Regions from separate parts of the Homo sapiens genome. Here all the other regions are linked to region 2. The links come from fine-mapping of genetic effects on plasma protein levels. Region 2 holds a variant in brackets. A gene starts in each other region. All regions are shown on their forward strands.

Region 1 (8,164 bases), not on the chromosome of region 2:
CAATCTGCGCGCGCCGAGCGGAGGAGGTGGGGCTTGTAGGTTGTGGGCGGGGGACTGGGCGGGGCCAAGAGGGCAGGGGGCGGGCACAATCGCTGCTGGAATCTTTGAGTTGGCAGGGGCGGGGCTTGTGGCTTTGTGGGCGGGGCCTCTGGAGAGCTCCCGGGGGCTCTCTTCTGTTCTGCAGCGAGTAGGCGTGGCTCGTAGCTCCCAGGTCCGGGCTGATACCGCTGGAGTATGCAGTTCGCCGCCGCGCCCGAATGAGGCGGGGCCTGCGAGTAAGTGGGCTGAGCCCGGGCTGGGCGCAGGCCGGGGCTCTGCCCTGGGAGGCCGTCTGTTTAGGCCCGCACGCAGCTCCGCATCTGGTGCTCATTACCAGATGACAAAGAGCCGGCTCTGGGCCCCCTTCCCCACTCCCATCCCCCGCCTCCGACTGCAGTGTATTTAACTGTTTCCTGCCCTCGAGGCGCTCTAGATCCCTACCCGAGGTCACGGAGGGGACTCCAGACCATCCCGTCTCTGCAGGCCTTGTCGCTCCCCAGGCTTCCTCACCTCCTTCCCAGACTCAGCCGTCTGGGCCGCCTCGCAACCCTCATTGGCATCCAGCAAACCTGCCCGACGGCGTCTCCGAGGTTAAAGCTGTGCAGGATCTGGCGGGGACGTCTGGTTTGAGTTAGGGGAACGTGAGAGCGGGGACCGGGGGCGGTGCGTAGCGTTCCCTCCGCCCCCTCCGCGACCCCCTGGTTCATCCCCAGCTCCGGCCCCTCCTTTCCTGGTTCCCTGGGGCCCAGCTCAGCCTTCCAGCTCAGGTCCAGGCCCGAAGGGGGCGCTGGGCCACTCCTCCTCGCCTGCCCGGGTGGTCGTGGCGGCTCTGCCCCGTCCTAATTAGAGGCCCCCAAGAGGCTGTAACTGAAAAATTACAGAGGCGGTGGGAACTGGCGCCTCCCCTCCCCAGGTCTCACCCCCGCCCCCCAAGGCAGTGAGCACGAAATGAGGGAGGTCACTCCCACCAGGCTGTGATCTTTGACCAGGCCCTCCAGTTCCTGGGACACTTCAGTCCTGAGCAGCCGGAGCCCTCGCTCAAGCTCAGGTCTGCTGAGCTCTGTCTGTCCCCCACCACCCCCAGCCAACATGGACAAGAGCAACGTGCGGCCCTGGCAAAAGGAGGCCTTGCTCCTGCGGCTGTCCAAGCAGTTAGCATGGGATCTCTCCCAGGTTCCCGGCCTTTCCCATCCCAGCCTCCTCCCCGGAGCAAGCGGAGGAATGCCTCCAAGAGCACCCACAAACCAGGGGTTGGCAGTCCCCTTGAGTTACCCTGAGCCCCAGCCCCCAACTTCCGCGAAGCTTACAGGGATGGGAAGGGAAGTGTCTGAAGAAAGGAGCAACTCACCCACTAGACCCCTCCTTCACTCCTCTGAATCACCAGCCCCAGAGCCTACTTTGACCCCTAAACCCCAGTCCGGTTCAGCAGATGCCCTAATTCCACAACCGTCCCCCAGATTCAGCCCCACCTTCTTGGAGCTTTGGTAAAATAAGGAATAAATATGAAATTCTCCCCATGCCAAACCTCCCACTGCTGGGCTCAACTGTGTGACCTTGGGCAAGGCTCTGCCCTCTCTGGGCTCCTGCTTCCCTGAGAATCTCTGAGGCATACCCTCCCTTAAAGGGATCTTACCTTATCTCTTTGAGGACTCAGACAAACTGAAGGAAGATCCCCTCCTTTTTGCTGAGTCCTCCCAGAACCTCCCTTAAGCACCAGTGGGGGTCAGAAGCCTTGGGTAAGGTTGACACCCCATTTATTGGAGAAGACCCCAGCACCCGCCCCCTGAGGTCTTAAGGGCTTTGGTGTATCCTTGGTCACGAGCGCTGGGCCAGGAAGCAGAGTTCCTGAGAGCCAAGTCTAGTGGTTGAGAGAGGACCCTGGCTGGGCCTGGGGAGCAGGAAGCCATCTGTCCAGCTGGGCAGCCCCCATGGGTCCCTGGTGCAGCCCCGGCCATGTGTCCAGCGCCCCATACTCCATGAGGGGGGTCTGCACCCCATCACACGCTGGTTCTGCAGGTCTGCACCCCTGTGAGGCTGCCCCTGGGGGGCATGGGTTCTGTTGGGCTCTTGCTCCCAGCATGGATGACCCAGCGATAGCAGTCAGTGATGCGCTTGTTGGGTGCATGGGGGCCACAGCGGGTGCAGTACACGATGCCCAGTGCAAGCAGGACCACCAAAAAGACACACGTTGGCACCAGGAGTGCCACCAGCAGCCACCGGTCATCCCTCTGGCTGTGCTCGGCAAGACCAGCCTCCCCCAGGGCTGTTGGGGCTGCTGTGGGAGCTGGTGAGGGCAGCCACAGGGCCAACTTGGGACTGGGGCCATCTTCCCTTGGGATTTGGGGGGCTTTGGAATGGGGATGTGTAGGGCTGATGGGTGAGGTCTGGTTAGTGGGGCTCTGAGAGGGCAGGAGGGTGGGGAGGGCTGCGGGCTGGGTGGCAGCAGGCACAGAGATTTGATGGGCAGGAGACACAGGGGACCTGGAGGTGGTGGTCAGAGAGGGCTGGGCAGTTGGGATAATGGGAAGCTGGGTGGCCTGGGTTCTGAGGACAAGGGCATCTGGGGCTTGAGGGGGTAGCTGGGCACCGAGGGTGGTGACCAGAGGGGCATGGTTAGGTGGGATTCCAGGCAAATGAGTGGTGGTCTGGGTGCCAGCGACCCGGGTGTCTGGAAACATGGGGGACTGGTGGGCAGGGAAGAGCTCCGGATATTTGGTTGAGATCATAGGGGGCTGGTGGGCAGGAGGCTGTGCTGAATGAGAGACAGAGAGAATACCGGGTTGGTAGGCAGAAGGCAGATCTGGATAGTTGGCTGCGATCACGGGGATCTGGTGGTCACGGGACAAAGCTGGGTGTGTGGCAGGGATCACAGGAGGCTGGTGGGCAGAAGGCAGTGTGGGATGCGTGGCAGAGACCACCACAGGCCGGGTGACGGAGAGCACTGAGGAGTGGTAGGGGACCCTGGGGGCACTGAGCGGGGGTGGCCAGGTGGGCTCCGGGTAGGGTATCTGTGGCTCTCTGTCCTCTGGGAAGCTCGGTCTATAGGCCAGGGCAAAGTCAGGCGGCTGCGTAGGCTCCATCCACAGGATCCCAGGCATCTCCGTCCAGCCACCGTTGAAGGCCTTCCAGGCCTCGTCTTCATCTTCCTCATCCTCCCCGTCATCCAGCAACTCATCTCCGAGGTCCTGGGAAGCCTGGGCACCCATGGCCCCTGCAGGGCTGCAGCTGATGCCATCAGCCTCCAGCTCATGTCCCTCGCTACAATAACACTCGAAGCCACCAACGTAGTTGACACACATCTGCTGGCACACACCGGCAATCTGGCACTCATCTGTGTCCACACAGCGGTGCGGATCATCCTCCGCTGGCCGGAAACCCAGGCGACAGTGGCAGCTGTAGCCTTGTGGCCCACCGGGCTCACACTGCTGCTCGCACGGAGCCTGGGCACAGGGGTCCTCGCAACTGCGCCCGTCTGCTGCCAGCCGGAAGCCCTCAGTGCAGCGGCAGGACACGTGACCATCCACCTCCTCCACACATTCGTGTTCGCAGCCCCCGTTGTCAGGGCTGCAGCCAGTCCCCAGGCACAGGGGCCCAGCCCGTGACCAGCCCACACCTCCCTCAGGCTGCTTCACGCAGAGCAGAGAGGCTCCCCTGCCAGCCTGGCACTGCACAGCGGCCACAGAGCCGAAGGGCAGCCACTCAAACTCTGTGGAGACCAGGTGGAAGGGCGTGGTATACACGGCTGGGCCGGCCTGGCCCGCCTCATCTTGCAGCGCCGGGCAGGCGCCCTCGAAGCCAAACTGGCACAGGTAGCCGTCGACAGCCAGCGTGCACGAGCCCTCCAGCCAGCGGTGCTCGCCACTTGCCTCCAGGGCCACACAGCGCTGGGCCGGGCAGGGGCCTCCAGAGGCTGGCTGGGCCCAGTTGGTGAAAGCCGTGTCCTGGTCCCCTGTGGTCCACGTGAAGCCGCGCAGTGGGCGCTGCAGCTGGCATTGCCGGGCCTGCCGCTGCAGCCCGATCCACAGCAGCCGGCTGGCTGGGCCCGCACCCACCAGGCTGTCCACACGCTGGGCCTCCTCGGGGGTCCGAGGAGTGGCCAGGTCGCCCCCCAGCTCGCGGCAGGCCCGCCAGGCCTCCAGGAAGGTGCGGCGCCGTGGGAAGAGAGCGTAGCAGCTGCTGGGGCCGCAGGCGGCACGGGGCTCAGCAGCCCAGGGGTCCTGGCCCAGTGTGGGCCCTGCGGCCGCCCAGGCCAGCAACAGGCGCAGCAGCATCGCGATGCCCCCGGACTGGTCCGGCCCCGGGCTGGCGGCAGCTCTTGACAGGGGGAGGGCCTGGGGCCTCCTGCGGGCGGGCCGGGGGCGGGCCTGGGGCCGGGCTCAGGCCTTGTAAGGAGTGGGCTGGGGCGGCTGCCAGCTCCCTGCTCCCTCTTCCCCGGGGGCCGCTAGAGCAGGAAGCAGTGGGGTGGGGGGCTCTAAGGTTGGGGGCGGAGGAGGGGAGAAGGCGCAGTTGACGGCTGCCCCAGGCCCCATGGGGCTGAGAGTCAGGGGGTGGGAAAAGCCTGCCTGCCGAGCTCTGTGACCCTCAAGTTGGGGCTCGGGGCTGTGGGGTGAGGTCGCTTCCCAGAGACTCAGAGACCCAAATCTGGACACAGCAGCCCCATCACACCCGGGAGCAGTCTCAGCCCAGCTGCTCGCCATGCACGGGAACACCCTCATGCCCACTCCTTTCTTGCCCCACAGACGCGCGCATGCGCCTCCCCCACCCCCAACCCCATGCAAGAGTGCACTCTCTGCCAAGCTGTTTGTCCCTTCACCTCACCGTGGACCTATGCTGGCTTGCAGATGACTCCCTTGCCACACGTACACACATTCTGACATGCTGAGACCCTAGGTGCACATACAAAAATGGTGTGGCATTCTACATGGCCTGACATATGAAGACCTCCGATTCGGCCTGAATGGAAACAGCTTGGTCACCCAGGCACAGGCATCCTCAGCCTCTCATTTATTTACTGAGCCCCTGCGTCAGCCTCTCCCCCTATACTCAAGCTTTCTGGTTCCAGCTGGGCCAGCGTGTGGGGGTGTTGGGGGAGTGAGGGGGCCAGGGGCTGCCCTCCCCTCACCCCAGCTCAGCCTGGGGCCCTGGGAACCTGGGCTTAGAGGGGGAGGAGGCAGCCCCTAAACAGGAAATGCCTCTCTGGGCTCCTGCGTCAGGAAGGCAGGGTGCGTGGTTTAGGGGGCTGGGTGGGGGCTGGGCTGCACGCAGGATGTGGAAGGCTGTGAGGGGACCCATGCAAGGCCATGTATGGGCATGGGGCACACAGTGACATATATGTGTATATGTGACACAGGCATCACGTGTGTGGAGCCCTCCCTGCCCCCGGGGCCTGCTGTTTCGGCCTGGCCAGGGTCCTCTTCCCGCCCTTCCTGGAGGCCTCTGGAGGCATGTGCACTGAGCCCATCATCCAGGATGGCCTCTGGGGAGCTGGCTGGCGGATTAACCCATGCACACCCGCTGCACTCTTAGCAGAAGTTAGAAACAGTGTGGGGAGGTGGGGGAGAGGTTCCGCCCTTCAGTAAACTGCCCTGATGCAGCTTCCCCCTCTGCCACAGATGGATCGACTTTGTGACTGCAGGGGAGTCACTGGCCCTCTCTGGGTCTCCTTTTTTCTCAGTTGCAACATGAGGGCAATGAGTCCAGGATTTTTAGCTCAGCAGGGCTGAGATATTGCGTCACAGCGCTCAGTGTTTGCAAATGTGCTTTGTCAGCTGTGGAGCCTGAAGCAAATGTTCCTGTCTTCTGAGCATATGTGGTGGGTGGAGACCAGGGTGCGTTTTTGCAAACCACCTTACAGTGCCTAGGCTGGCCCTGCAGACCCAGCCAGCCCCTCGAGAACCAGGGCTTAGGAAGTTCTTGCCATATGCCTGGAAGTTCCTTCTTACAAGGTCTATACATGTGAAGCACACAGAATGACTCCCCTTCTCAGGAGACAAAAGTCAAGATGGAGGAGTTCATCCTTCTGTTGGCTCAGGCCCCAAACCTTGAGGTCATGCTTGACTCCTCTCTTTCTCCCACAGCCCACATCCAGTCTCTCAGCAAATCCTGTTGGCTTCACTTTCAAAAGAGATCCAGAATCTGACCACTCCTGGACACCTTCTTTGCCACCCACCCCCGGCCCAGGTGGCTAGCAACGCCAATCTAGATTTCCCCAACAGCCTCTCCCGTGGTGTCTCTCTTGCCCTCTCCATCCTGCCAGAGGGATCCTTTCAAAATCCAAGTCAGATCTGATCACTTCTCCATTCAGAACCCTCTGAGCCCCCCATCTCGCTTAGAGGAAGGGCCACAGTCCTTGCCATGGCCTCCTGGTCTATGTCATCTGCCTCCAAACTCTGGCCTCATTGCTGTTCCTTAAATGCTCCAGACACTCTGCCTCACAGCCTTGGTCTTGGCTGTTCCTGCTGCCTGGAATGCTCTTCCTCCAATATAAAAATGCTCTGCTTCTTTACCTTCTCCAGGGCTCAGCTCAAGTACCAGAGTCCTTGACCATCTCACCCCACCCCACACCGCCCCCTGGGGCTCCTTGACCACTGGATCTTCCTGCATTTTCTCGCTCTGCACTTATCACTATCTGACATTAAATATATTTACTTGTGAAATTAGTTGGACGTGGTGGTGCACCTGTAATCCCAGCTACTCGGGAGGCTGAGGCAGGAGAATCATTTGAACCTGGGAGGTGGAGGTTGCAGTGAGCCAAGATTGCGCCACTGCACACTCCAGCCTGGGCGACAGAGCAAGACTGTGGAAAAGAAAAGAGGAGAGGAGAGGAGGGGAGGGGAGGGGAGAGGCGAGCGGGAGAGAAAAAGAAAAGAAGGAAAGATGTTGGGAACAAGCCCCCCAAAATTTGGCCATAAACTGGCCCCAAAACTGGCCATAAACAAAATCTCTGCAGCACTGTGACATGTTCATGATGGCCATAACGCCCACACTGGAAGGCTGTGGGTTTACCAGAATGAGAGCAAGGAACACCTGGCCCCGCCCAGGGCGGAAAACCGCTTAAAGGCATTCTTAAGCCACAAACAATAGCATGAGTGATCTGTGCCTTAAGGACATGCTCCTGCTGCAGTTAACTAGCCCAACCTATTCCTTTAATTCAGCCCATCCCTTCGTTTCCCATAAGGGATACTTTTAGTTAATTTAATATCTATAGAAACAATGCTAATGACTGGCTTGCTGTTAATAAATACGTGGGTAAATCTCTGTTCGGGGCTCTCAGCTCTGAAGGCTGTGAGACCCCTGGTTTCTCACTTCACACCTCTATATTTCTGTGTGTGTGTCTTTAATTCCTCTAGCACCGCTGGGTTAGGGTCTCCCCGACCGAGCTGGTCTCGGCAGAAAGAGAGAACGAACGAAAGAAAGAAAGAGAAAAGACTTACATGTTAGACCTAAAACCATAAAAACTCTAGAAGAAAACCTAGGCAATACCATTCAGGACATAGGCATGGGCAAGGACTTGATGTCTAAAACACCAAAAGCAATGGCAACAAGAGCCAAAATTGACAAATGGGATCTAATTAAACTAAAGAGCTTCTGTACAGCAAAAGAAACCACCATCAAAGTGAACAGGCAACCTACAGAATGGGAGAAAGTTTTTGCAACCTACTCATCTGACAAAGGGCTAATATCCAGAATCTACAATGAACTCAAACAAATTTACAAGAAAAAGCAAACAACCCTATCAAAAAGTGGGCGAAGGATATGAACAGACAGTTCTCAAAAGAAGACAATTATGCAGCCAAAAAAAACACATGAAAAAATGCTCATCATCACTGGCCATCAGAGAAATGCAAATCAAAACCACAATGAGATACCATCTCACACCAGTTAGAATGGCGATCATTAAAAAGTCAAGAAACAACAGGTGCTGGAGAGGATGTGGAGAAGTAAGAACACTTTTACACTGTTGGTGGGACTGTAAACTAGTTCAACCATTGTGGAAGTCAGTGTGGTGATTCCTCAGGGATCTAGAACTAGAAATACCATTTGGCCCAGCCATCCCATTACTGGATATATACCCAAAGGATTATAAATCATGCTGCTATAAAGACACATGCACACGTATGTTTAT
Region 2 (8,170 bases):
ATGGTGTTCCTCAATCGGCTCTGCAAGTATGGCACACCTGAATAGCAGCCTGTGAACTCTCTTTTTTTTTTTTTTTTTTGAGGGGGAGGACAGGAAATGAGCATTTTAGCTTTTCAGTGTTTATTTTCTTCTTACTATTTTTTAAGAGACAGTGTCTCCTTGCTCTGTCACTTAGGCAGCATATCATAGCTCACTGCAGCCTTGAAAACTCCTGGGCTCAAGGGATTCCCCAATCTCAGCCTCCTGAATAGCTGGGACTACAGGCACACACCAACATTCCCTGTTAATTTTTAATTTTTTTGTAGTGATGGGGTCTTGCTATGTTGCCCAGATTGGCGTTGAACTCCTGGGCTCAAGTAATCCTCTCACCTCAGCATCCAAAACACTCGGATCACAGGCATGAGCCACCATGCCTGGCCCTGCAGGTCTCTTTGAAGGCAGAGGGGAAAGCGAAGAAAACAGTCTTTGGCATCTGGACCTGGAATAAAATCCCACTCTGCCATTTACTAATTCTGTGACTTTGGGCGGGTTATTGAAGGTCTCAGAGCCATCATTCCTCCATCTAGAAATCTGAGTAACTGGGTAACACTTACCTGGAAGAATGTGCAAGTGTCTGGAACATGGTAGGTATTCAGTGAATGGTGGCGTCAGTGAAGGCCATCATCCTAGCCTCTGGAGAAACCTACCTCAAAGGTCACTGTCATTGCCTCACTCCTGGCAGTGGCCTTTCGCTGCCCATCAGAGCACGCCCATGTCCTCAGCTGGTGTCTCCAGCTCCAGCTTCAACAAGGGTGACTTTGCAGCCCCTGTGGAACTTCTACCCCCAGTACAGACGTTCTCCCTCTTACATGCACACACACACGTGCACCCCACCATGTCCTTGCTGGTGTTTTGCTCCCTCTAAGAATGCCTCATGCTGTCCTTACCACAAGCCACATCCACCTTTTCCTTTAAAACCCCCCGCTCTCGGCTGGGCACGGTGGCTGACACCTGGAATCCCAGCATTTTGGGAGGCTGAGGTGGGCGGATCACTTGAGGTCAGGAGTTTGAGACCAGCCTGGTCAACATGGCGAAACCCTGTCTCTACTAAAAGTACAAAAATTAGCTAGGCGTGGTGGCGGGTGCCTGTAGTCCCAGCTACTTGGGAGGCATGAGAATTGCTTGAACCCGGGAGGCAGAGGTTGCAGTGAGCTGAGATCGTGCCACTGCACTCCAGCCCAGGGGAAAGAGCAAGACTCTGTCTCAAAATAAATAAAATAAAAATCAAAATTAAATAATAAAGTAAAATAAACCCCCCTCTCCAGAAAGCATCACCTCTTTGGTGAATATTCTTCTCACCATTCCAGATACAAACACATGCACAAGCCTCGGAAGAAGCCTCGACTTTGGAGTGCATGGACCTGGGCTCAACTTCCAGCTCTGCCACTTTAATTTTCAATTTTATTTATTTATCTTTCTTTCCTTTTTTTTTTTTTTTTGAGACAGAGTCTCACTGTGTCACCCAGGCTGGAGTGCAGTGGCACGATCTCAGCTCACTGCAAGCTCCGCCTCCCAGGTTCATGCCATTTTCCTGCCTCAGCCTCCTGAGTAGCTGGGACTACGGGCACCCACCACCATGCCCGGCTAATTTTTTGTATTTTTAGTAGAAACGGGGTTTCACTGTGTTAGCCAGGATGGTCTCGATCTCCTGACCTTGTGATCCACCCGCCTTGGCCTCCCAAAGTGCTGGGATTACAGGCGTGAGCCACTGCGCCCGGCCTTTTTTTTCTTTTGTGAAATGGAGTCTCGCTCTGTTGCCCAGGCTGGAGTGCAGTGGCACAATCTCGGCTCACTGCAACCTCTGCCTCCTGGGTTCAAGCAATTCTCCTGCCTCAGCCTCCCGAGTAGCTGGGATTACAGGCGTGTGCCACCACGCCTGGCTAATTTTTGTATTTTTAGTAGAGACAGGGTTTCACCATGTTGGCCAGGCTGGTCTCGAACTTCTGACCTCAGGTGATCTGCCCACCTTGGTCTCCCAAAGTGCTGGGCTTAGTCCCGGGCTAAAAATACAGCTGATCCTCAAAATGTGAGGGGGTTGAAGAAGACAAGTCAGAAGGCAGTGGGGGAGGTGGGGCCCTGGTGTGACAGTGAAAGGGAGGCTAAGAAAGGGAAGGGGCGTGTTGTCCTAGGTACTTGCCAGGCTGAGGTGGGAGGATCATTTGAGGCCAGCCTGGGCAACATAGTGAGACTCCATCTCTACAAAAAATAAAATAAAAAAATAGCCAGGTGTGGTGGCATGCACCTGTAGTCCCAGCTAGTTGGGAGGCTGAGGTGAGAGGATCGCTTGAGCCCAGGAGTTTGAGGTTACAGTGAGCTATAATTGTACCACTGCATTCCAGCCTGGATGACAGAATGAGACCCTGTCTCACACACACACACACACACACACACACACACACACACACAGGCTGGGCAAGCTCACTCCTGTAATCCCAACCCTTTGGGAGGTCAAGGTGAGCAGATCACTTGAGCCCAGGACTATTTATTTATTTATTTAAGCCCAGGGGTTTGAGATCAGCCTGGGCAACATAGCAAGACCCCATCTCTACAAAAAATTAAAAAGTAGCCACGTGTAGTGGCACATGCCTTAGCCATAGCTACTCAGGAGGCTGAGGTGGGAGGATCACTTGAGCCTGGGAAGTCAAGGCTGCAGTGAGCTATGATTGTGCCACTGCACTCCAGCCTGGGCGACAGAGTAAGACCCTGTCTTCCAAAAAATAATTTAAAAACAGAAGAGTAAGGGGCACCTGGAGGGAGAGTTGGGGGCTCAGAGTTGGCAAGGCACTGATGCCAGGGAAATACATTGGTGAAAGAGAGAGACTGGAGTAAGCGCCAGAGAGAGAAGGGAGGAGGACTTGGGCTCCCAGAAACTACTGGGGAAGGGACACCTGTAGAGAGGATGGCAGGGAGCCCAACTTTGTGGCCCCTATGTCCAACTTTAGGGTGAGATGATGCCTGGGGAGCCCCCAGGTCTGGGCCCCCTCCCTTGGTGGTGTCAGCCTGAGCCCATCTGTTTCTGGTCCCTCCCACCACTGCGACACTCCTTACCTCTTTCAGGTTGAACCTCATGTGGTGACAGAGGATGTGGAAGGGGAGCTGGGTGCCTCCACCCTGTGGGCGGTAGCCTTTTACCCTAGAGGCCTGGAAGAGCTTTGGGTAGCCA[A/G]ACTGGTAGCGGGCAGGGAGGGCGAAGCGCAGCCCGTGCTGGTCCCCATAGCGGTGAAGCAGGCTCAGCACAGAGCTGCTCCCGGATTTATGTGTCTTCAGGAACACCAGTCGCTGCCGGGGTGGGCAGGACGGAAGGGCTGGTCGTAGGGATGGGGCCGAGGGCTGTCGGAGCTGTAGCCCAGGTAGCCTGGGAAGAGATGGAGGGGGAGTGTCCTGTTCCTCAGCAGCAAATGGGTAGAAGGGACAGAGGGCATGGAGGCTTCTGAGTCCTCAGGAGTCACCAGCCCCAGGTGGGATGGGGAAGAGCAAGTACGGGGCGTCTAGAAGGAGTTGGGGCAAAGTGGGAACTCACCTCCTCTGGAAGGGCCCTCCCAAGAGCTGGAGTGCAAAGCCAATGGTCATGAAGACTCCCAGAGCCACCCCCAGGCTCCGAGGTCCCCAGAGCCGCAGCGTCCTGGCAGGAGAGAGAGGGCCCATGTGGCACAGGGAAGGGTGAGGTGACAGAGAGATGGAGCCAGGGCCAGGAAGAGGGGCAGAGACAGCTGGAGACAGCCGTGCAGCTGCGGAAGGCACTGGTTGGAGATCGGGGGGTCATTCCCCAGGCCTGCTCACAGTCTTGGTTGAGTCTGCCCCCTGAGTTAGCAGATTTTTGCCTCTGTCAGCGTCTAGAAGGGAAATGAGGGGGGAAGAAGGGAAGTCTAAGGAGAGAGGCAGAGGCAGCCTTCTCTCCTGCTGCAGCTGAGACCTCCTTCAGGGAAGGGGAGTGGCTGGGGATGTTGTCTATACCCAGACTCTCCTAGGTGGCCCCACAACTACTGTCTCTGCTCTATCACTTTCTTATCTCCAGTTCCTCCCGCTCCCCACCTACAGTTGTCCCTGAGCCTTGGGGATTTATAAGGGAAGGAGAGAAAAAGCCCCAGCTCGTGAATGAAACAGCCAGCAAGAGAGAGAGAGATCAGATCAATCAGCTCATTAACACAGTCAGGTCAGACCATGGTCGGGAACCTGGTTTCCTCCAGAGCCCCTCTGGCTGTCACAGATGGGGATAAAGAGCCCTATCCCAGGACCAGGAAGGGAAGCCATACAGTGGGAATGAGGATCAGACAGGACACAGGTGTATGAACCCAGGCAGGAGGAAGGGAGGTTGGACTTCCAGGAGTGGCATTGCAATGGGTAAGAGCCATTGGGTTATAAATTCCCGCGCCTCTTTTTTCTCTGTCTCAGCACGGGGCAGACCCCCATGTATGACAGGGGCTGGGGGAGACGTGTGGCTACTTATAAAGCCCAGATCCCTGGACTTACCCACCATTCCACTTTCCAACCTTATCAGTGCACCCGGAGGAGACTGAAAGGGTGGGGCTGGAGAGGGAGACAGAAAGAGAGAGAGACACACACACACACACACACACACACAGAGAAACAGAGAGAGAGAGACAGAGGGACAGAGAGACTATGACACAAAGATAAGGAGAAAGGCGCAAACACTAACTGCAGAGTTCCTTCTGAAGCCCGAGCTTCCTAATCAACCGGGAGTCCAGCCCCGCCCCTTCAGATTACAACTCGCGATCAGGGACCACGGCCCCTCCAACAAGCCCCGACAGCTCCCTGCTCCGATGAGCCAGGGGTAACCCCAAGCAGAGAGAAGCCACACTTTTACTCCCGGAGACCTGCCCTCTCTGGCATCACTCCCCAATTCCCTCCCTGATCACAGCCCCTGGGGTCTAGCCGCGTCTCCCCTATCCAGAGTTCTTCATTTCCTTCCATCCATCTCTCCCTTCCCATGATTGGAGATCCCAGCCCTCTGTCCCCTCCAGCTTTGGTGACTGCCCAGTTGCCCCCGCTGGGGTTCCATGAACCCCTCATGTCTCCTCCCATAAATTAGAGGGTCCCTCCACTGGTCCTATCCTTGGTTTCACTTCCCACTCACCAGGCCACAAGGGGAGCAGCAAGGGAAATCGGGCCGGGCCCTCCCGCCCATCCCAGCCACCGCCCGACTCTTGGCTCAGCTCAACTTTCCCCAAGAACTTTCTCAGCGCCCAGGCTCCTCCCTCCTCCCTTTGTGCCGCCAGCCCCAGCAGCTGCTGCAGCTTTGATCGCGGTTCTAGGTCTCTCCCTCGCTGCATCTTCCCCTCTTCGGCAGGGCACCCAGACTCCTCTTGGAAGACACCACTTCCGCCCCCGCTTTCACACTTGGGAATCAATCCTACCATTTTCTCTTGGCTTGCCGCAGAACAAAAGATTCATTCAGGCGGTGGAAAGAAAGAAGGAAGGAAGGAGAAAGTGATATTTGAAAGCAGACATTGTCAAGGACGTGGCAAGGTAGCCAGAGACTGACACTCAGAGAACAAGGCCTCCCATCCTGAAGGCAGGGGGCAGTGGTGTGGTCACCTTAATAATGCTTCGTGGCCGGGTGCGGTGGCTCACGCCTGTAATCCCAGCACTTTGGGAGGCTAAGGCTGGTGGATCGCTTGAGGTCAGGAGTTTGCGATCAGCCTGGCCAACATGGTGAAACCCCGTCTCTACTAAAAATACAAAAATTAGCTGACTGTGGTGGCAGGCGCCTGTAATCCCAGCTACTCAGGAGGCTGAGGCAGGAGAATCATTTGAACTGGGGAGGCGGAGGTTGCAGTGAACTGAGATCGCGCCATTGCACTCCAGCCTCGCGACAACAGCGAGACTCTATCTCAAAAAAAAAAAAAAAAAAGCCTCATGTTCAAAGAGCATTTTGCAGGTGACAAGGTGCTTTTTCACACAGATTCTATTTGGTCCCCACAATTCTCCCTGTTGTACAAACGAAGATGCTCAGAGGCCCAGAGGGTGGGCAATTTGGAGATCAGAGGTTATTGTCTAGGCCCGCCTCCTGGGGGACAGGTGCCAAGGGAAGTGAAAAGCCGGCAGAAAATGAGCCAGTCACAGAGGCTCTGAGACCTCTGCTAGGAGCCAGGGCTCAGGCACTGATGGTGACAGCACAGAAGCCACACATGGGGTCCAATACATTACCATTTATTTGCAGAATAAACATGGACTCAAACACTGAAACATGGAGTTTGTGAAGGATGTGGGTGGCAGAGGTCACGAGATGAGCACCCCCCCACCTTGTTTTTTTTAAAATTTGGTTTAAGAAATTGATACTGAAAAAACTCAACAGAACCCAGGCCCATGAAGTCTCACATCCTACTCAAGCACCCTCAGTCCCCTGCCCTGCATCCAGCTGGTCCATTTCTGAGACCAGATGCCCCCACCCCTCCCCACTTCCAACTTCCTTCAAACCCCTTCCCCAGCTGCAACTCTAAACTCCTCATTTTCTCTGTTGGGGCTGATCACCAGCCCCAGCCTTAGAGGGCTAGAGACTATACCTTCTAAGGAAACCACACTCCCTCCTAAATAAATACCCCCAGGCCCCCCTCCCATTACCAAATGAAAAAATAAATATTGTGAACACCCACCCACCTCTGATGAAAATCTCCTGGATTTGGGGCCCCAGCCATTCACCTGCAAAGTCCCTTCTCTACCCTCTCTGCAGCCCCCTTCGACTCCTCCCCAGGCCCAGCTGAGGGGGGAGGAGGGGAAAGGGCCATGAACCCTTCTGATGCTAGGGCACCCCTCCCCCGTTATCGAGGTCCAAGCAGGGCCAGGGCTGAGAGGGAGAGAATGAGGATGGTTTGGGTGTGAAAACCAATAGATGCCCCCCCACTCCTGCTCCGGCCCTGGTTGTAGCGGGCACTGCCACCTCCTCCTTTGCCCCCAGAACCATCCCTTCTAGGAGGGTATGGAGGCCGAGGAGGCCGGGCTGGGGGAGCCACAGCCCCAGCCATCCAGTCATCTGCATACTGCTGTCCCCCTCCAGAGCCGCTGGCATCCTCATCTGCAAGGAAGAAGAGGGACAGAGCAGGATGGGAGGGAGAAGCAGAGGGAGACAGAGGGAGGAAAAGAAATTGAGATAAAAACAGAAAGAGAGAGGAAAGGGAGGGAGACACAGGTGGATGCCGGGTTGGGGAAGGGAGAAAGACCATGAGTGACAGGAAGGCAGGGAGAGAAGGAAGGAGAGAGATCCGACAGCAGACATGGGGGGAGAGATCATGATGGGAGACAGTGAGACAGAGAGAAAAAAAAACAAAACAGGCAGATGGGGAGAGAGGATAACAGGAAAAAACAGAAAAATCAGAAGTACACAGAAGCAGAAAGCAGCCAGGAAGAGGGGTGCGGGAAGAGTGACAAAGAGAGACAGAGACAGACAGATAGAAGGAGAGAAGAAAACAATGAGTGTCTGTGCCTTGCTTCTCTGTTTGGCAAACTCCACCCTGCGGAGCCAGCTCAATGTCACCCACCACCCTGGCTTCCCAGCCTCCCCCAAATTGCCCCCTCCCCCATTTTCCCACTGCCCTTTGCCCATTATAAGGGGCTTCCCACTGTTCTTTAAGAATGTTTTCGTGTCTCCCCTACTGGCCTGAAAGGATACAGACCCCCTCATTGATCTGTTACCCCCAGTCTTTCAGGGCAACGCTCAATAAATGCTCGTTGAATGAATTAGTGAATTAATCAATGAACGCTAAGAGCAGAGGCACGGGCGGGAACTACCAGGAGAGGGGAGAGGCTTCAGGGCAGTGGGCGGGGCTCAGGCTCAGGGATGCAGGGGTCTCACCCGCGTCCTGCCCGTCCAGGTCGTGTCCCAGTGCGGCCGTTTTCATTCTGGCCGTGGCCGCCCGGAGCTGTAGCCGACGCCGCCGTGTCGGGACATCGGGGCCCGAGGCGTCCACCTTGAGCTCGGGGTTGTTGACCTGCTCGGCCGGGGAGCCCCCGACCACTGGCGGCAAGTACCTGCGAGCAGAGCAGCCCCGAAGCGCCAGCTAGCGCGCGCGGCCCCGCCCCTCCCGGCCGCGGTCCCGCCCCCTGCTGCCCCCCGACGCCCCCGAGGCTCACCGGCCCCGCCCGGCTCCGGTCCAGCAGGGCGCCGCCTCCAGCGAGG
Region 3 (8,170 bases), not on the chromosome of region 2:
CTGTCGATCGGAGGGGACGGCAGCTGGAGTGGGTTAAGGGGTGAATCTGGGGAGAGCTAGAGAAGATGGTGGGATGAGGGAGGGGCTGCCTGACCTCCATAAGTTCGCATTTTAGTCTCAGGTTGTTGGAGCCCTAGAGACAATCTGGTCCAACCTCCTTCCCTCCTTTTTTTAAAAAAAGATGGGACCTCGTTATGCTGCCCTCACTATGTGGCATGATCATAGCTCACTGCAGCCTCCAGTTCCTGGGCTCAAACGATCCTCCTGCCTCAGCCTTCCGAGTACCTGGGACTACAGGCGCACACCGCCATGCCCAGCTAATTTTTTATTTTAATTTTAATTTTTTTTTTTGACAGAGTCTTACTCTGTTGCCCAGGCTGGAGTGCAGTGGTGCGATCTCAGCTCACTATAACCTCTGCCTCTCGGGTTCAAGCTATTCTCCTGCCTCAGCTTCCTGAGTAACTGAGATTACAGGCATGCACCACCACGCCTGGCTAATTTTTACTAATATACTAATATTAATAATATTAATAACAATACTAAATATACTAATTTTTGTATATTTAGTAGAGACGGGGTTTCACCATGTTAGCCAGGCTGGTCTCAAACTCCTGACCTCAGGTGATCCGCCGGCCTCGGCCTCCCAGAGTGCTGGGATTACAGGCATGAGCCACCCTGCCTGGCCTAAATCATTTATAGACATGGGGTCTCACTATTTTGCCCAGGCTGGTCTCAAACTCCTGGTCTAAAGCTATCCTCCCACCTCAGCCTCCCAAAGTGTTAGGATCACAAGCATGAGCCACCGTGACTGGTGCAAGCCCCCATTTTATAGACGGGGAAACCTTCCTCAGAGAAAGGAGGAAGCTGTCAGGGTCACCAGTAGTTGGTATTGAGCCTGGCCTCCTGCAGGACTCCCAGGCCAGGATGCCAACTCTCGCTGCCTCTTCTTTATCTGTCATATGCACCTCTGGTTCCATCTGACCAGACTGTCAGTTCCCTGGGCCCCTGCTCTGCACCCCAAGGCCATTTTCCTGTCTGTCATCCTGGTCTCCCCTGCTGTCTGACTCTGTCTTTGGGCCACTCATCTCTCTGCTGCTGCTGTTCTAATGATAGATGAGGTTTCAAGGCTCTACCAAACAAGCCTGTCCATCAGGAGCGAGGGGAGATCTCAGCTACTTCCCAAGGCCCCCCACCAGCCCCACAAACCCAGAGCCTTGGGGAAGGATGCTAGCATCTCTTCAGGTCCTGCTCCCAGCTGCCCTTCCACTGGTCACAACAACTCCGCCATCAATCAGGTCAGGCTGCCCCTCCTTAGCAACTCTCCCCCAGAACGTCCTTCTCCTACATCTGGCCTCCCCAGACACCCGCTTCCTCCTCATAGGTCCTCCTGCCTGTGAAATCCCACCTGGCCTGTGAAAAGGGCACCGGACTGGGAGTCAACAGCTGCCGCCTCTGGCTTCTTACAGATTCCTTAAGTCTAACCTCTATCCCTCCTGCTGCAGAAAAAGTGCATTTCTCCTGGCTCAATCTCTGTCAAAGCCAAGAAGACAGGATAGCCTCTACTTAGAGAAGTGATTCAAGTCTCTGCCTGCCCCACTCTTCCTGGTCTCCTCAACCGTCTACTACCCCAACCCTACTCTGAAGGGGCCGCCCTCAGCCAGGCCCGGGTCTGGCCACTATCTCCCAGCCCATCCTTGTTACCTCCCAATTCCCCCTTCCCCAGCCCTCTCCGTGGTTCACACAATCCAGCCAAAGGTTCAGATCCTCCCCTCATAAACTCTGTTACACCCAGAGTTCAGAAGATCACACCAGGTTGAGGATTCAAAGGAGCCCAGAAATTATTCATAACATATCCAACTCTCTCCTGTTTACCTTGATTTTTTTAAAGTATCAGTTACCCATAAAGACCCTAACAAATATGAAAAGGAAAGGCAATTATAAAAGATCCTTCATTATTCCACGCACAAGAGTCAAAGATTTTGCCAACAGCCTCACTTTATAAATGCAAAAATAGGTCCAGAGAGAGAAAGTAACTTGTCTAAAGTCACACAGCAAGTGAGATGGCGGGACTAGAAGCCACGTCTCTGGCCACCCTCTGTGTGGTCTCCCTGAAAATTGGTGGTTCTCACCAGCAGCTTCTCGGTTCGTCAGCTCCACTGCCCTCTGCCCATACTTCCCACTGTCAGCCTCCTTCCCCTCCCACCCCCAACATACTCTTCTTCTCAATAGGGACCCAGGTCTGTCTCAGCTACATGCTGGGACCATTAAAGTCAAGAACATTGCCACTGACACTGTGCCTGGTGCCAGCACACTCCTGAGACACAGCAGGTCAACCACAGCACTCACCTCAACAGCGCCTCCCTCACCCCACCTGAGGGGCACCCATGCCAATGATGCACAGGTATCTATCTTCTTAATCATCTCTGCTGAGGGGCCAGGCTGCAAATTACCCATCTCCCCAACCCCAGAGAAAGTCTAGGTGCTTAGGGGAGAACAGAGACTATGAAAATTATACCATGAGGGATTCCAGGTAGATCTCAGAAAGGACTTCCAGGTGGGAGAGATGAGTTTGGAGAACTGGTAGGGGGGAAGAGGAGTGTGCAGAATGGGACGCCTCCCTCCACCCCCTACCCCAGTGCCCCATCTAGAGCCAGAGTAGCTGAAAGCCAAAGGCTGCCAGGGCAAATGGGAGCAGGTGTGAGGAGGGGGACTCTTGAGGCTGGGGGTGCAGAAGCAGCAAGTTGCTTCTTCCTGGGCCCACTGCCTCTCTACTGACACCAAATAGGCAAGGGAAGGTGACCGAATGGCTGCTGCCTTCCCAGGCAGAGACGCTGTGTCCCCACCATCCCCCTGGCTGCTCCCACCTATCCCTAGCCTGGATCAGCTTTGGGGTCGGGGGTGTGGCAGAGAAGAGGAAAAGAAGGCATGGCTGGGGCAGGGGCCTCCCCAGGCTCCCATCTCATCAGAATTCAGCCTTGCCTGGGGTGATCAGGGGTCCTGATGACTCTCCCGCTGTCCCCTTTCAGAGCCCATGGCCACATAGAGCCCCCTCTCCTAAGGTCCCTCCAGTATCCTTCCAGGAGAGAAGGAGAGGTCCGGGCATCGGTGTCTCCACCGTCACTCACACACCCTATGTGTTTGGGAAAGTGGGGTCCCTATCCACCTGCCCACAGCCCACAGCTCTCCTGGCCTCCTGCGGACAATGCCCCCCTCGCGGACATCGCCAGGCCGTCCACACCTGCCCATGCCCACACCTGACTGCCCGTCCCTCCCCGCCCCCGGCCCACCCGGGCCGGCTCCCGCCAGTCCTACCTGCTCCGGGCTGGGGGCTCAGCGCCCGGGCAGCCTCCCTGAGCACCAGCACCAGGAGCCAGAGCTCGCCTCGCATGGTGGGTGCCCGGACCTGCCCCCGGCCTGCTTGCTGCCCCGGTCCTGACGAGGGAGGGGGCCCTGGCTCAGGCTGCGGCCGCGCGGTCCCCGGGGCTGGCGGAGGGGCGGGCGGCGAGGAGACGGCGGAGCGCGGGGCCGGGCGAGCCGGCAGGAGCGGCGAGAGCGCGAGCGGAGCTGGAGGCTGCGGCCTCCGGGAGCAGGCGGGGAGCTGGGGGGGCCGCTGGGTCGGTGGGGGTGGGGGGGAGCTGGGGCAGGGGGCGGGGCGGGGGGCGCGGCGTCGTTGGGGGCTCTCCCGGCGCCTGCCCTCAGCCCTAACGGAGCGCTCCCCTAGAGCTCTGCAGCCGCTCCCAAGGCAAGGGGTGCAGAGTAGGGGACAGGGCGGGAGCCCCTCGGGCTGAGAGAACCCCTAGAAGCATCAGCCGCCCCGCGCTCCTCACTGAGCTCCTGGCTCCCTTTCCCTCCTCCGTTCCGCCGGGAAAGCTGCAGAGAGAAGGCCCGAGGACTGGACCCCTGGAAGGGACAGGCGCCCCATCCCTGGGTCACGGGCCCCTGACTGTTCCCCGCCCCCAGCTCCTCCAAGCTCTGCGACTTCCTGAGCTGTTCTTCGGAATTCTGTGCGTCTCTGATGCTTTGTCCTCCAGCCCCCACCCCCAGAAATCTCCCCCTGCAGCAAAGACCCCCAGCTTTTCTCCCCAAGAGGGGCCTGAATCCCACCCCCCTTCCATGACTCCACCTTATCCCTCCACCCCCCATTTCCAGCACCGATTTGCCCCCCAAGCCTAGCAGACGTGAGGGTGGAGGGGGCCTGGCTACCCCTTACTCTGCAACAGTCTGGACCCCTCCCCACGAGTAGGTAACCCAGGCCTCCTGCCTCTCTGGGGCCTCCAGGCCTACTCAGGGCCAGACCCAATCAATCTTCAGAGCCAGCCCCAGACGAGGAAATGGCTCACCCCACCTGTCACCACCTTCTGACAGGCTCTGGGGATAGATAATCTTTTTATTTTTTCTTCCAGGACAGAATAAAAATACCCGCAATGTAGGATATTTAATAGACGGCAAGGAATCAGGTCAGGACACGAAGATGCCTCTTCCCTCCCCTGACCTACTTCGTTCTTGTGACGGCAAGGAGCTGGGGCGCTGGAGAGTGGGAGACGGGGTGAGGGGGCATCCTGGCTTCTAGTGGGCTGGGGCCTAGGGACTAGAAAACCGCGGAGAGGAAGGGTGCGAACGCTGAGCGCCATTGGAGAAATTTTCCAGGAGGAGGGATATGGGCGGGGACAGGAGAAGGTACACTGTGGGCTGGAAGAGACGGATTCCGTGGCACTGAGGTTAAAAAAAAAAAAAAGAAAAGAAAAGAAAAAAAAACACCTAAGAAAGGAAACAACTAAAGGCTCTCTAATCTCTTAGAACGCCGGTTCCTCCTTCCGCCGGGCCCAGAGTCCCAGAGACTACCTCCTCCAGCCCTAAACCCAATGTCCCCTTACCGTGGAACAAGGCAAGGCCGGTCTGTAAATTCTTCTTGATGTCTAATTTAAATCCCAACTTGGCGGACTCTCAAACAGAATCAGATAGGCAGCTACCTCCAGCTGCAGCTACTTGCTGCCCTCAAGTGGCCACGTGACGAGCCACAACCCTCTTGTCCTGCGGGTTTCCTCTTTCCCCAGCCTGCCCACCCCCTGTCTCCGACCTCCTGCCTTCCTCGAGGTCAAGGTGAGAAGTCTCGGGACGGATTCCAGCTCCAGCCCCGGCGTCTTTGCACATTCCTCCATCTGGGGTACCTCGTGGTCTGTCTTACAAGAAGAGCTCAGGCTGAAACATAAACTTGTAAATAGTAGAAGCAAATGTGTAAATTTTAACGTAAGCCTCTAGAACTTGAGATCGTAATCACCTGCAGGGTGTGTGTGTGTGTGTGTGTGTGTGTGTGTGTGTGTGTGTGTGTGTATTTTGTTTGTTTTTTGAGACAGGTTCTCGCACGTTGCCTAGGCTGGAGTGCAGTGCTGCGATCATAGCTCACTGCAGCTTCCAACTCCTGGACTCAAGCGATGGGGAGCGTATATGAAAACACAGATTTCTGGACTCCACCCTCAAGTTTCTAATTCATTAGGTCTGGGATGAGGCCCGAGCGTACCCAGGTAATGCTGCTGGTCCCAGGACCACATTTTGAGAGCCACTGCTGTTGAATCCCCAGTTCCTTTCAGTCCCTCACTGCTCCTCGTCTGCCAGTAGGAGTAAAAGCAAACAGCTTAGGAAAAATCGACACCCAGGACAAAAACAGTATCTCGAAAAGGCCAAAGAGGGGGCACCCGGATTTGAACCGGGGACCTCTTGATCTGCAGTCAAATGCTCTACCACTGAGCTATACCCCCTCTGCCGGCAAACCGACCGCACGTAGTCGTTTAGTGGTATTGCTGCGCAGGCGCTGTGTGGCGTTCCCGAAGGGAAGTGGAAGTGGGGTAAGACGTTTACAAGAGATGGAAAAAATACAACTCCCAGAAGAATTACTCACTTGGAAGCAGGGGTTGTTCCCTGAAGCTCTGAGCTGAAGATCCCCACTGGCAGTATAAGAAAATATATTCCTGGGGTGTGGAAGGAGAAGTCTCTCGAAATATTTCACTTCGGGGGCGTCCCACTCTCCTGCCCTGCAGAAGACCCCTTGCCACGTCTCGGAGCTTCTTTCTCCCTCCCACATGCTCACGCGGCTTCTCCCGACCTGTCTTCCCCAGCCCAGCCCTTAGAAACTCAGCCTCCTTCCCGCCAAGAAAGAGCCAGGCTGACCTGGGGGTGCGCTCGCCTCCGCCCTGCCATTGCGAGGTTGAGCCACCCGTACCGTGTTCCAAGGGTCAGCCCGGAGCTCCTCGCCCTCACTCGCATTGCATTCTACCCTGGGTACACACACAGGCTGAGCCACTGGCAGGGGCCAGGACTCCATCCTCACTCGCCTGCGAAAGCAAAAAGGGTGGCAGGGCTCGAGACTCCCTCCCATTCCATCTGTGCGGGAACTCTTTAGAGGACCTCCGGAGACCAACAAAACGAGGTAACTCCGGAGCACAGAGGGGGCACCCGGATTTGAACCGGGGACCTCTTGATCTGCAGTCAAATGCTCTACCACTGAGCTATACCCCCGCCACGCCACTACGTTGTCATTAGAGTTAATTTCTATGGAATAGGGGTGTGGTCTTCATTTTCCCTTAAAGTTTTAATCTGAGGGTTGCGTCGGGATACCTACTGAAAAAAACACAAAATACAATGGGAATGGCTAGAACTCCTGAGTTCTTCCTTCATAGCCACGCTTTCGGAAAACCAACTAGATTAAGGAATCTTGGGCCGAGAGCGGTGGCTCACGCCTGTAATCCCAGCACTTTGGGAGGCCGAGGCGGGTGGATCACAAGGTCAGGACATCGAGACCTCCTGGCTAACACAGTGAAACCCCGTCTCTACTAAAAATACAAAAATTAGCCGGGTGTGGTGGCGGGCGCCTGTAGTCCCAGCTACTCGGGAGGCTGAGGCAGGAGAATGGCGTGAACCCTGGAGGCGGAGCTTGCAGTGAGCCGAGATCGCGCCACTGCACTCCAGCCTGGGCAACAGAGCGAGACTCTGTCTCAAAAAAAAAGGAATATTGGGTCCTCTATATCCGTGCCTAGACTCTCCCCCAAATGTCCACTGACTGGCTTGAGAAAAGGACTGTCCCCAGGACCGCCCCAGGTCCAGGGATGTACAGATGAACAGACTGGATCTCCATCTTGTCTCCTGGGCTTTTCCAACCCCAGGGTCGCTCCTCCCCTTCTCTCAAACCAAAAGCCAGTTTGAGGAACAGACAGAGGAGAAGGCTGAAATAAGAGGTAAGCATTTTTCAATAGCATTTACTACAGCCTTATAAAAATCCTAATACAGTATTTTTTTTAAAATCCTGGCCGGGCGCGGTGGCTCGCGCCTGTAATCCCAGCACTTTGGGAGGCCGAGGCGGGCGGATCACGAGGTCAGGAGATCGAGACCATCCTGGCCAACATGGTGAAACCCCATCTCTACTAAAAATACAAAAAAATTAGCAGGGCGTGGTGGTGCGCGCTTATAGTCCCAGCTACTCGAGAGGCTGGGGCAGGACAATCGCTTGAACCCGGGAAGCGGAGGTTGCAGTGAGCCGAGATCGCGCCACTACTGCTCTCCAGCCTGGGCGGTAGAGCGAGACTCCAACAATAACAACAACAACAAAAATCATTACACAAAGACAAACAAGCAGCCCCTTTAGGAATCTGGTATATTTGGGAGGAGTGGGATTCAAATTGGAAGGACACTAGAAGTAAAGGGGATGCTGTGGGGTGGCTTAAAGTCCAAGAGCTGTGGTCAGAGTCAGCATCTCAGAGGGAATGGGAAGACGAGGAGAAGTGGAATCCCTGCAGTGCAAAGGGCTGTCCCTATCTGGGACGTCCTGTCCTCCTCCATTTCCCCTTCCAGTTTTTGCCTCTGCCCTCCTCCCCTTGAGCCCACCTTCTTCACCTTGCTAGAATCTCCTTTGCCCAAAGGGAATGGGACAAAAATGGCTGAGGGGCTAAAAAGCCTGAGGGTGGAAGGAGGTTTGAGGAAATGAAGAGCAATTCCAGGGTTTTTTGTTTTTGTTTTTGTTTTTTTTTGAGTCGGAGTCTCTCTCTGTCGCCCAGGCTGGAGTACAGTGACCCGATCTCAACTCACTGCAACCTCCGCCTCCCAGGTTCAAAGGATTCTCCTGTCTCAGCCTCCCGAGTAGCTAGGATTACAGACGCCCGCCACCACGTCCGGCTAATTT

Alleles and levels. Positions count from the first base shown, and alleles are read on the strand shown. Strength reflects both the effect of a copy and how common the allele is.
With allele G in place of A in region 2, the plasma level of the protein whose gene starts at base 4,327 in region 1 is higher (weak association).
As copies of G replace A in region 2, the plasma level of the protein whose gene starts at base 3,588 in region 3 goes up (weak association).

The links. PIP is the posterior inclusion probability: the model's chance that the variant is causal. Protein levels are from antibody-based Olink assays in UK Biobank. Linkage for the fine-mapping came from a reference panel and not from the study's own genotypes, which makes the PIPs less certain.
Region 1: it holds the start of CD248, and the variant in region 2 is fine-mapped to the plasma level of the CD248 protein (UK Biobank, PIP above 0.99).
Region 3: it holds the start of PLXDC1, and the variant in region 2 is fine-mapped to the plasma level of the PLXDC1 protein (UK Biobank, PIP above 0.99).

What each region holds. Positions count from the first base shown.
Region 1 is chr11:66,312,718-66,320,881 of GRCh38, forward strand. CD248 (CD248 molecule) reads right to left here and starts at 4,327. Exons shown (of 1, transcript NM_020404.3): 1 at 1,777-4,327. The coding sequence starts at 4,310. The coding sequence ends at 2,037. RefSeq lists enhancers at 3,076-3,772, 6,329-6,830, 6,831-7,330 and a silencer at 4,256-4,525.
Region 2 is chr7:100,163,415-100,171,584 of GRCh38, forward strand. GAL3ST4 (galactose-3-O-sulfotransferase 4) reads right to left here and starts at 5,203. Exons shown (of 4, transcript NM_024637.5): 1 at 5,132-5,203; 2 at 3,557-3,869; 3 at 3,088-3,391. The coding sequence starts at 3,681. GPC2 (glypican 2) reads right to left here. Exons shown (of 10, transcript NM_152742.3): 8 at 8,125-8,170; 9 at 7,847-8,022; 10 at 6,192-7,069. The coding sequence ends at 6,816. RefSeq lists a silencer at 8,049-8,170. The variant A/G (reference allele first, on the strand shown) is at 3,203.
Region 3 is chr17:39,148,050-39,156,219 of GRCh38, forward strand. PLXDC1 (plexin domain containing 1) reads right to left here and starts at 3,588. Exons shown (of 14, transcript NM_020405.5): 1 at 3,313-3,588. The coding sequence starts at 3,388. It overlaps TRC-GCA2-3 (tRNA-Cys (anticodon GCA) 2-3), which reads right to left and starts at 5,756; the gene lies at 5,685-5,756. It overlaps TRC-GCA2-4 (tRNA-Cys (anticodon GCA) 2-4), which reads right to left and starts at 6,513; the gene lies at 6,442-6,513. RefSeq lists enhancers at 5,092-5,241, 5,614-6,120, 6,121-6,625 and a silencer at 6,502-6,571.